2 separate regions of the Homo sapiens genome follow, and region 2 is linked to region 1. Evidence: fine-mapped expression QTL. A gene starts in region 1. The other region holds a variant in brackets. All regions are shown on one strand. Distances are from middle to middle.

Evidence for each region. PIP is the estimated chance that this variant, and not a neighbour inherited with it, causes the effect. A credible set is the group of variants that fine-mapping cannot tell apart.
Region 2: its variant is the best candidate, but not a certain one, in a credible set for the expression of TBL2 in subcutaneous fat (FUSION, PIP 0.59).

The regions. Positions count from the first base shown.
Region 1 is chr7:73,576,554-73,580,936 of GRCh38, forward strand. TBL2 (transducin beta like 2) reads right to left here and starts at 2,026. Exons shown (of 7, transcript NM_012453.4): 1 at 1,867-2,026. The coding sequence starts at 1,996. RefSeq lists a silencer at 1,638-2,277 and an enhancer at 2,608-2,677.
Region 2 is chr7:73,413,503-73,417,885 of GRCh38, forward strand. No RefSeq gene overlaps it. Among named protein-coding and RNA genes, the nearest start is that of FZD9, 18 kb to the right of the region's middle. The variant T/C (reference allele first, on the strand shown) is at 1,913.

The sequences.
Region 1 (4,383 bases):
GGGATGAGAAGTCAACATCTGTTGAGTCCTGTGCGGGGGAGTGGAGCCAGTCACTTTTGTAAAAGATACTTAATTGAGTCACAAAGCTGGCATGTGGTAAATGACTGCAGATGCTCCCCAATTCCAACAGGAAAAAAGCTCCTGGGCCCTGCAAACAAACACAGCCACAATCTGTCCTCTGCTTCCTTCTCTCCAGGCATGTCTAACAAGCCCCCCTCCTCACACTTAAGTCATACCAAATGCTGTTTGGGGACTCCTTGCCTTCTCGGGTATTGCCATTGGCAGGAATGTCTTTTTTCCTTGGCCTTCTGGCAAACTCTTCTTCTAGAACCATCCTTTGAGACCCCACACTACCTCATGTGCCCCCTATTCTCAGTAATGATTTCCCTAACAACCACCTCCCCCATAAAAGAACAGGACTCGGCCAGGCAGGGTGGCTCACGCCTGTAATCCCAGCACTTTGGGAGGCCGAGGCAGGTGGATCACAAGAGGTTAGGAGATTGAGACCATCCTGGCTAACACAGTGAAACCCCGTCTCTACTCAAAAAATACAAAAAATTAGCCGGGTGTGGTGTCGGACGCCTGTAGTCCCAGCTACTCAGGAGGCTGAGGCAGGAGAATGGCGTGAACCCAGAGGCGGAGCTTGCAGTGAGCCGAGATCCCGCCACTAGACTCCAGATTGGGCGACAGAGCAAAACTCCGTCCCCCTGCAAAAAAAAAAAAAAAAAAAATGCAGGGCTGGCCGGGCACAGTGGTTCACGCCTGTAATCTCAGCACTTTTGGAGGCCAGGACGAGTGGATCACCTGAGATCAGGCGTTCGAGACCAGCCTGACCAACGTGGCGAAACCCCGTCTACTAAATATACAAAAATTAGCCAGGCGTGGTGGTGTGTGCCTGTAGTCCCAGCTACTCGGGAGGCAGAGGCAGAAGAATCGCTTGAACCTGGCAGGCGGAAGTTGCAACGAGCCAAGATTGTGCCACTGCACTCCAGCCTGGGCAAGAAGAGCGAAACTCTGTCTGAAAAATAAATAAAAAGAGCAGGGCTGCCCACTGACTCTCTGGTGTTTCCCATTTCTAGTACTAACCTCTTCTATGAAACTTTTCAGAGACAGGCTCTTGCCGTCACCCAGGCTGAAGTACAGTGGCGCGATCTATCACAACTCACTGCAGCCTTGAATTCCTGGACTCACGACACCCTCCTGCCTCGGCCTCCCATGGAGCTGGGACTACAGGGGCGTGCACAACCACACCCAGCTAATTTTGCGTAGAGATGGGGTCTTGCTATGTTGCTCAGGCTGGTCCCAAACTCCTGGGCTCAAGCGATCTCCCTGCCTCGGCCTCCCAAAGTGCTGGGAATACAGGCGTGAGCCACTTCGCCTGGCCTCAGTGAAACTTATTTCACCGTGTTTTTCACTTACATATTTAGGTGTTCATAATACAGATGTACTTCTCCTTTACTGGACTCCTTACAGAAAAAGACCCCAAAGCCTATCACAGGGTCATAGATGCCCAGTAAATGCTGCTGCACATCACAGAATTGGTGCTTTTTCCGAGATCGCGGCCACGGAGCAGGCTGAAGAGTTTACGGTGCTCTCCTGGCCACCCCGGGGACGGCCTGGCCTCGGCCACAGAGAAAGCCGCAGTAAGGGGCCCAGGTTGGAGCCAGTCCCGCCCCAGGAGGTGCGCCTAACCCGGCAAGGCGGGTCCCCGTCTCTGGAAGCGAAGCTCACGTTACCAGAGGAGAAACTGAGGCCCATGGAGTCGCCGGGCCCCACCAGCCGCGGGCCCAAACCGCAGGTCGGACCACGAGGAGGCCGGGAGCCGGGACACCGCGGGCCGCCCCCACCCGACCCGGCCCCACTTACAGGCGGGCCGGCCGCTCCTCTCCTCCCCCGCGCGCAGCCACCCCCGCGCTACCGCCGCCGTCGCCATCAGGGCCAGCAGCCCAAGCAACACCGACAGCCCCATGAGCTCCGACATCTGCGAGAGCTCCATGTTGGTGGAACCACTGCCACCTCAGCTAGTGAGTACGCGGGCGCCCGCACGGCTCTGCCGGGCCGCGCACGCACGCGGGGGCGCGGCCTGGCCGTTGGGGAGCCTCAAGCGGCTGGGCCTGGCCGTTAGAGCGCCTGGGGGCGGAGCCTGGTTGTTACAACGCCTTCAGGGCGGGGCCTGGCCGTTAAAGCACCTCAAGGGGTGGGGCCCGGCTGTTGTGGCGCTCGAGGGGCGGGGCCTGGAGTTAGAGCATCTCCACCCGCCGAGCCTAGTTATTAGAGCGCCTCGAGAGGCAGAGTCTGGAGTTAGCGCGTCTCGAGGGGCGGGGCTGGGTTGTTAGAGCGTCTCGAGGGGCAGAACCCGGAGGTAGAGTGTCTCGAGGGGCGGGGCCTGGAAGTAGAACATCTCGAGGGGCAGGGCTCGACCCTTGGTGCGTTTCGAGGGGCGGGTCGCCTGGCGGTTGAGATTGCAGGGCTGCGGAGGGCGGAGGAAGGCGGGATTTGCGATCACTGCTCACGCCTCCTCCTGAAGAACTCACTGATAATTGTTTATTAAAGGCATTATTCCAGCCATCACCACACTGGATCCTTTCAAGGAAGCGGGGCGGGGATTATTATTACCATTTAACGGATAGGAAACTCAGCATCAGCGAAAGTTCAGATGGGCTTTTAAGGAAGAGTAGGCCAGGCGCGTGGAGTGGAACAGCCTCCGCAAAGACCTGAGAAGCTGGGATGTGGGAAATGGCTAGAGGGGCGGAAAGGTCTGGGGGACGTTGAGCGCTGGCTCCATCCAACAAGCTGCTCATTACAGGGAGAGGTGGGGCAAAAGCTGTGTCTGAGGATTCCCTGGATGGACCTTTGTGTGAAAAGACCAAAATCAGAAAACCGGCAGTGGCTTCAAGGATCCGAGAGGGAGGTGACGAGGGCCTGGATTTGGGGCTGGCCTGGCAAGTCGAAAGTTAAAAGGGAGAATTTTTAATAGAAAACTTATTTTATTTATTTATTTATGTATTTACTTTTGAGACGGTTGCCCAGGTTGGAGTGCAGTGACGCGTCTCGGCTCACTGCAACCTCCGTCTCCCGGGTGCAAGAGATTCTCCTGCCTCAGCCTCCAGAGTAGCTGGGATTACAGGCGCGTGCCACCATGCCCTGCTACTTTTTGTGTTTTTTATAGAGACGGGGGTTTTGCCATGTTGGCCAGGCTGGTCTCGAACTCCTGACCTCAGGTGATCCACCTGCTTCGGCCTCCCAAAGTGCTGGGATTACAGGCGTGAGCCACCATGCCGAGCTGGGAGATTATTTTTATTTTTTATTTTTTGAGATGGAGTCTCGTTGCACTGTCGCCCAGGCTGGAGTGCAATGGCGCCATCTCTGCTCACTGCAACCTCTGCCTCCCGGGTTCAAGCGATTCGCTTGCCTCAGCCTCCCGAGTAGCTGGGATTACGGGTGCCCGCTAGCATGCCCCGCTAATTTTTTGTATTTTTTAGTAGAGACGGGGTTTCGCTATATTGGTCAGGCTGGTCTTGAACTCCTGACCTCGTGATCCGCCCGCCTCAGCCTCTCAAAGTGCTGGGATTACAGGTGTGAGCCACCGCGACTGGCCCAGACCAGGAAATTTTTTCATAGAAAACTTATTTTTTTTTTTGAGACAGAGTCTTGCTCTATTGCCCAGGTTGGAGCGCAGTGGCGCGATCTCGGCTCACTGCAACCTCCGCCTCCTGGGTTTATGCCATTCTCCTGCCTCAGCCTCCCGAGTAGCTGGGATTACAGGCGCCCGCCACCACGCCCGGCTAATTTTTTAAAAATATTTTTAGTAGAGACGGGATTTCACCGTGTTAGCCAGGATGGTCTCGATCTCCTGACCTCATGATCTGCCCGCCTCGGCCTCCCAAAGTGCTTGGGGGATTACAGGCTTGAGCCACCGCGCCCGGCCAGAAAACTTCTTTTAAGGCCGGGTGCGGTGGCCCATGCCTGTAATCCCAGCACTTTGGGAGGCCGAGGCGGGAGGATCACCTGAGGTCAGGACTTCGAGACCAGCCTGGCCAACATGGTGAAACCCCGTCTCTGGCCAACATGGCGAAACCCCGTCTCTACCAAAAGTACAAAAATTAGCTGGGCGTGGTGTCCCACGCCTCTAATCCCAGCTACTCGGGAGGCTGAGGCAGGAGAATCACTTGAACCTGGGAGGCAGAGGTTGCAGTGAGCCAAGATTGCTCCACTGCACTCCGGCTTGGGTGATAAGAGTGAGACTCCATCTCAAAAATAAATATAAAATAAATAAAAAAAGAAAGAAAGAAGAAAACTTCTTTTAAAATAATTACAGCCGCCAGGCACAGTGGCTAAAGCCTGTGATCCCCAACACTTTGGGAGGCCAAGGTGGGAAGATTG
Region 2 (4,383 bases), 160 kb before region 1:
CAATGAGATGCTGTCTCAAAAAAAAACACACACACACACAAAACAACAAAAAAACAAATTGTTCAAGGCAAGCCTGGTGTGTCAAGCCCTTGTTCTGAGCACTTGGCTTATATTATCTCCCTTAATCCTTCCCACCACCCCATGTGCTAGATACTGGGATTAATTTAGTTGAGCTGTAATACATCAATACTGTGTGAAATGCTATGCAACATCTAAAAGGAAGACAGGTGGAGCTTTTATTTATTTTTTATTTTATTTATTTTTTGAGACACAGTCTCGCTGCATTACCCAGCCTGGAGTGCAGTGGCACAATCACAGCTCACTGTAGCCTCAACCTCCTGGGTTCAAACAATCCTCCCACCTCAGCCTCTCAAGTAGCTGGGACTACAGGCTTACACCACCATGCCTGGCTAATTTTTTTTTTTTTTTTTTTTTTTTTTTAGAGATGGTGTTTTGCTAACTTGCCCACGCTGATCTCAAACTCCTTTTTTTTTTTGGCTTTGGAATGGTCTGGAACTCCTGCGCTCAAGTGATCCTCCCACCTTGGCCTCCCAAAGGCCTGGGATTACAGGTATGAGCCACCGCACCAAGCCCAGGTTGAGCTTTTAAGGTATTAAAGATCCACTAGGTGAAAAAATAGAGTGAATGATACATATGCCATTTAAGGGAAGCACAGGAAAACTCCTATTTTGTTTATATGTGAATAGAGGCACATAGATGCCTAGAAAAGTGTCTGGGAGGAAATGAAACCAGATTGGCCACAAAAATCACCTCTGGAAAAAGGAAAAGAATGGGGACTTTCACTTTTTGCTTCATATGTTTCATGTACCTTTTTTTTTTTTTTTGAGATGGAGTTTCACTCTTGTTGCCCAGGCTGGGGTGCAGTGGTGCGATCTCAGCTCACTGCAACCTCCGCCTCCTAGGTTCAAGCGATTCTCCTGCCTCAGCCTCCCGAGTAGCTGGGATTACAGGCATGTGCCACCACGCCCGGCTAATTTTTTGTGTTTTTAGTAGAGACAGGGTTTCTCTATGTTGGTCAGGCTGGCCTTGAACTCCCAATCTCAGGTGATCCGCCCGCCTTGGCCCCCCAAAGTGCTGGGATTACAGGCGTGAGCCACTGTGCCCGGCTGTATTCAATACTTTCTTTTCCATTGCACAAGAACAGAATGCTAGGGAGGGGAAGAACAAATAGCCCTTCAATTTTCTAAAATTTATTTTTTGTAGAGATGGGATCTTGCTATGGTGCCCAGACTGATCTTTAACTCCTGGCCTCAAGCAATCCTCCCACCTTGGCCTCCCAAAGTGCTGGGATTACAGGTGTGAGCCACCGCGCCCGGCCGCTTTTTCTTTTTAAAAAGTAAAATATAACAGAGAAAACTGCACAAAACAGAAGTGTTCAAATTATTTTTTTTTTTTTGAGACAGGGTCTTGCCCTGTTGCCCAGGCTGGAGTGCAGTGGCTCATTCATAGCTCACTGCAGCCTCAAACTCCTGGGTACAAGCGATCCTCCCACCCTAGCCTCCTGAGTGGCTGGAAGGCCAAGGGAGGATCGCTTGAGCCCAGGAGTTTGAGGCTGTGCCACCACGTGCAACTAGTTTTTTTTTTTTTTTTTTTAATTTTTTTAGAAACAGGGTTTCGCTATGTCACCCAGGCTGGTCTCAAACTCACGGGCTCAAGCAATCCTCCCATCTTTGGCCTCCCAAAGTACTGGGACTACAAACATGAGCCATCTTGCCCAGCCCCTAGAACGTGTTATCAAATAAACACCGATGCAACCCTCACTCAGCCGAGAAGTAAAATATTGCCAGCCAATCCCTAGATGCTTCTGCTTGCCGCTTCCCAATCCTAACCAATGCCTTCTCCTGACAATTATGATGGTCATGTCTTTGCATTTCTCTAATGTTTCCCATCA[T/C]GATCAAACTAGTTTTGTTTTGCCTGTGTCCAAACTTTGCATAAATGAGCAGCATGTGTCTGGTGGACCTGGCTTCTTCCACTCAACATTATGATAAGAAGATTGACCATTTGGTGCCCATAGCTATTGCTCTTGCATTTTCATTGCTCTATAGATTCTTACTCAACATACCTTAAAAATTTTTTTATTCTGAAATAAGAGCGGGATGCTATTAAAAAAAGAAAAAAAGAGAACAAAAAAGTCCTCCAGTAAATTTAAAATATGGTAGTTAAGGCTGGGCACGGTGGCTCACACCTGTAATCCCAGCACTTTGGGAGGCTGAGGTGGGTGGATCACCCGAGGTCAGGAGTTCAAGACCAGCCCGGCCAACATGGCAAAACCCTGTCTCTACGAAAAAAATACAAAAATCAGCCAGGTGTGGTGGTGTGCACCCGTAATCCCAGCTACTCGGGAGGCTGAGACATGAGAATTGCTTGAGCCCGGGAGGCAGAGGTTTCCATGAGCTGAGAAGTGCCACTGCACTCCAGCCTGGGTGACAGAATGAGACGAAAAAGGAAAGAAAGAGAGAACGAGAGAGAGAAAGAGAGAAAGGAAGGAGGGAAGGGAAGGGAGGGGAGGAGAGGGGAAGGGAGGAGAGGGGAGGGGAGGGGAAGAGAAGGGGAAGGGAAGGGAAGGGGAAGGGAAAGGGAAGGGAATGGGAAGGGAAGAAAATTAGAGATTAATTCAGGAGATTCAACATCCGCCTAATAGAAATTCCAGAAAGAGGAAGTAGAGAATAGAGAGGCCGGGTGCAGTGGCTCACACCTATAATCTCAGCACTTTGGGAGGCTGAAGTAGGAGGATTGCTTGAGGCCAGGAGTTTGAGGCTGCAGTGAGCTATGATTGAGCCACTGTACTCCAGCCTGGAAAACAAAGCAAGACCTCGTCTCTAAAAGTAATAATACGCCGGGACAGTGGCTCCCCACACTTTGGGAGGCTAAGGTGGGCGGATCACTTGAGGTCAGGCGTTCGAGACCAGCCTGGCCAACATGATGAAACCCAATCTCCACTCAAAATAAAAAAATTAGCCAGGTGTGGTGCTGCACACCTGTAACCCCAGCTACCTGGGAGGCTGAGACAGGAGAATCGCTTGAACCCGGGAGATGGAGGTTGCATGAGGCGAGATCGCATCATTGCACTCCAGCCTGGGTGACAGAATGAGACTCTGTCTCAAAATAATAATAATAATAATAAAGTTAAATATAAATAAATAAAAGCAAATGAATAGAATTAGTTTTATTCATTTGTTTTGTTGTTGTTATTGTTTTGGAGACAGAGTTTTGTTCTTGTCACCCAGGCTGGAGTACAATGACGTGATCTGGGCTCACTGCAACCTTCGCTTCCTGGGTTCAAGCGATTCTCCTGCCTTAGTCTCCTGAGTAGCTGGGATTAGAGGCGTGTGACACCTCGCCCGGGTAATTTTTGTATTTTTAGTACAGACGGGGTTTCACCATGTTGGCCAGGCTGGTCTCGAACTCCTGACCTCAGGTGATCCACCCGCCTCAGCCTCCCAAAGTGCTGGGATTACAGGTGAGCTACTGTGCCCGGCACGGTAGCTCACTTTTTATCGTTTTTTGTTGTTGTTGTTGTTTTGGTTTTTTTTAAGACACAGTTTTGCTCTTGTTGCCCAGGCTGGAGTGCAATGATGCGATCTTGGCTCACCGCAAGCTCGGCCTCACAGGTTCAAGCGATTCTCCTGCCTCAGCCTCCCGAGTAGCTGGGATTACAGGCATGCGCCACCACGCCTGGCTAATTTTTGTATTTTTAGTAGAGTGGGGGTTTCTCCATGTTGGTCAGGCTGGCCTTGAACTCCCAACCTTAGGTGATCCACCTGCCTTGGCCTCCCAAGGTGCTGGGATTACAGGTGTGAGCCACGCGCCCAGACTTTATTGTTTAAATGCATATATACTGTAATTTAAAGTTTGCACAAAACATTATGCTTGTTATTTTTAAATATGTGATTATAGGCCGGGAACAATGGCTCACACCTGGAATCCCAGCACTTTGAGAGGCTGAGGCGGGCAGATCAATTGAGGCCAGGAGTTCCAGACCAGCCTGGGCAATACAGTGAAACCACATTTCTACTAAAAATACAAAAATTAGCTGGGCATGGTGGCTTACACCTGTAATTCCAGCTACTTGGGAGGCTAAGGCAGGAGAATTGCTTGAACTCAGGGGGCAGAGTTTGCAGTGAGCCGAGATCACACCACTGCACTTCAGCCTGAGTGACAGAACAAGACTCTGTCTCAAAAAAAAAAAAAAAAGGTGATTATAAGTGAGATGTATTATATTTCTTTGTCCTTAAGAAAAGTAAGCACAAAGCCACAGTCAAGAAGGGTATAGCCAGCAGAGGGACTGTCTTGGGCAAAGGTGTGAGCCAAGCACTGGGCTTGCTGGTGTGTCTGGGCTGGGTGAGAGACACAGGTGTTGGG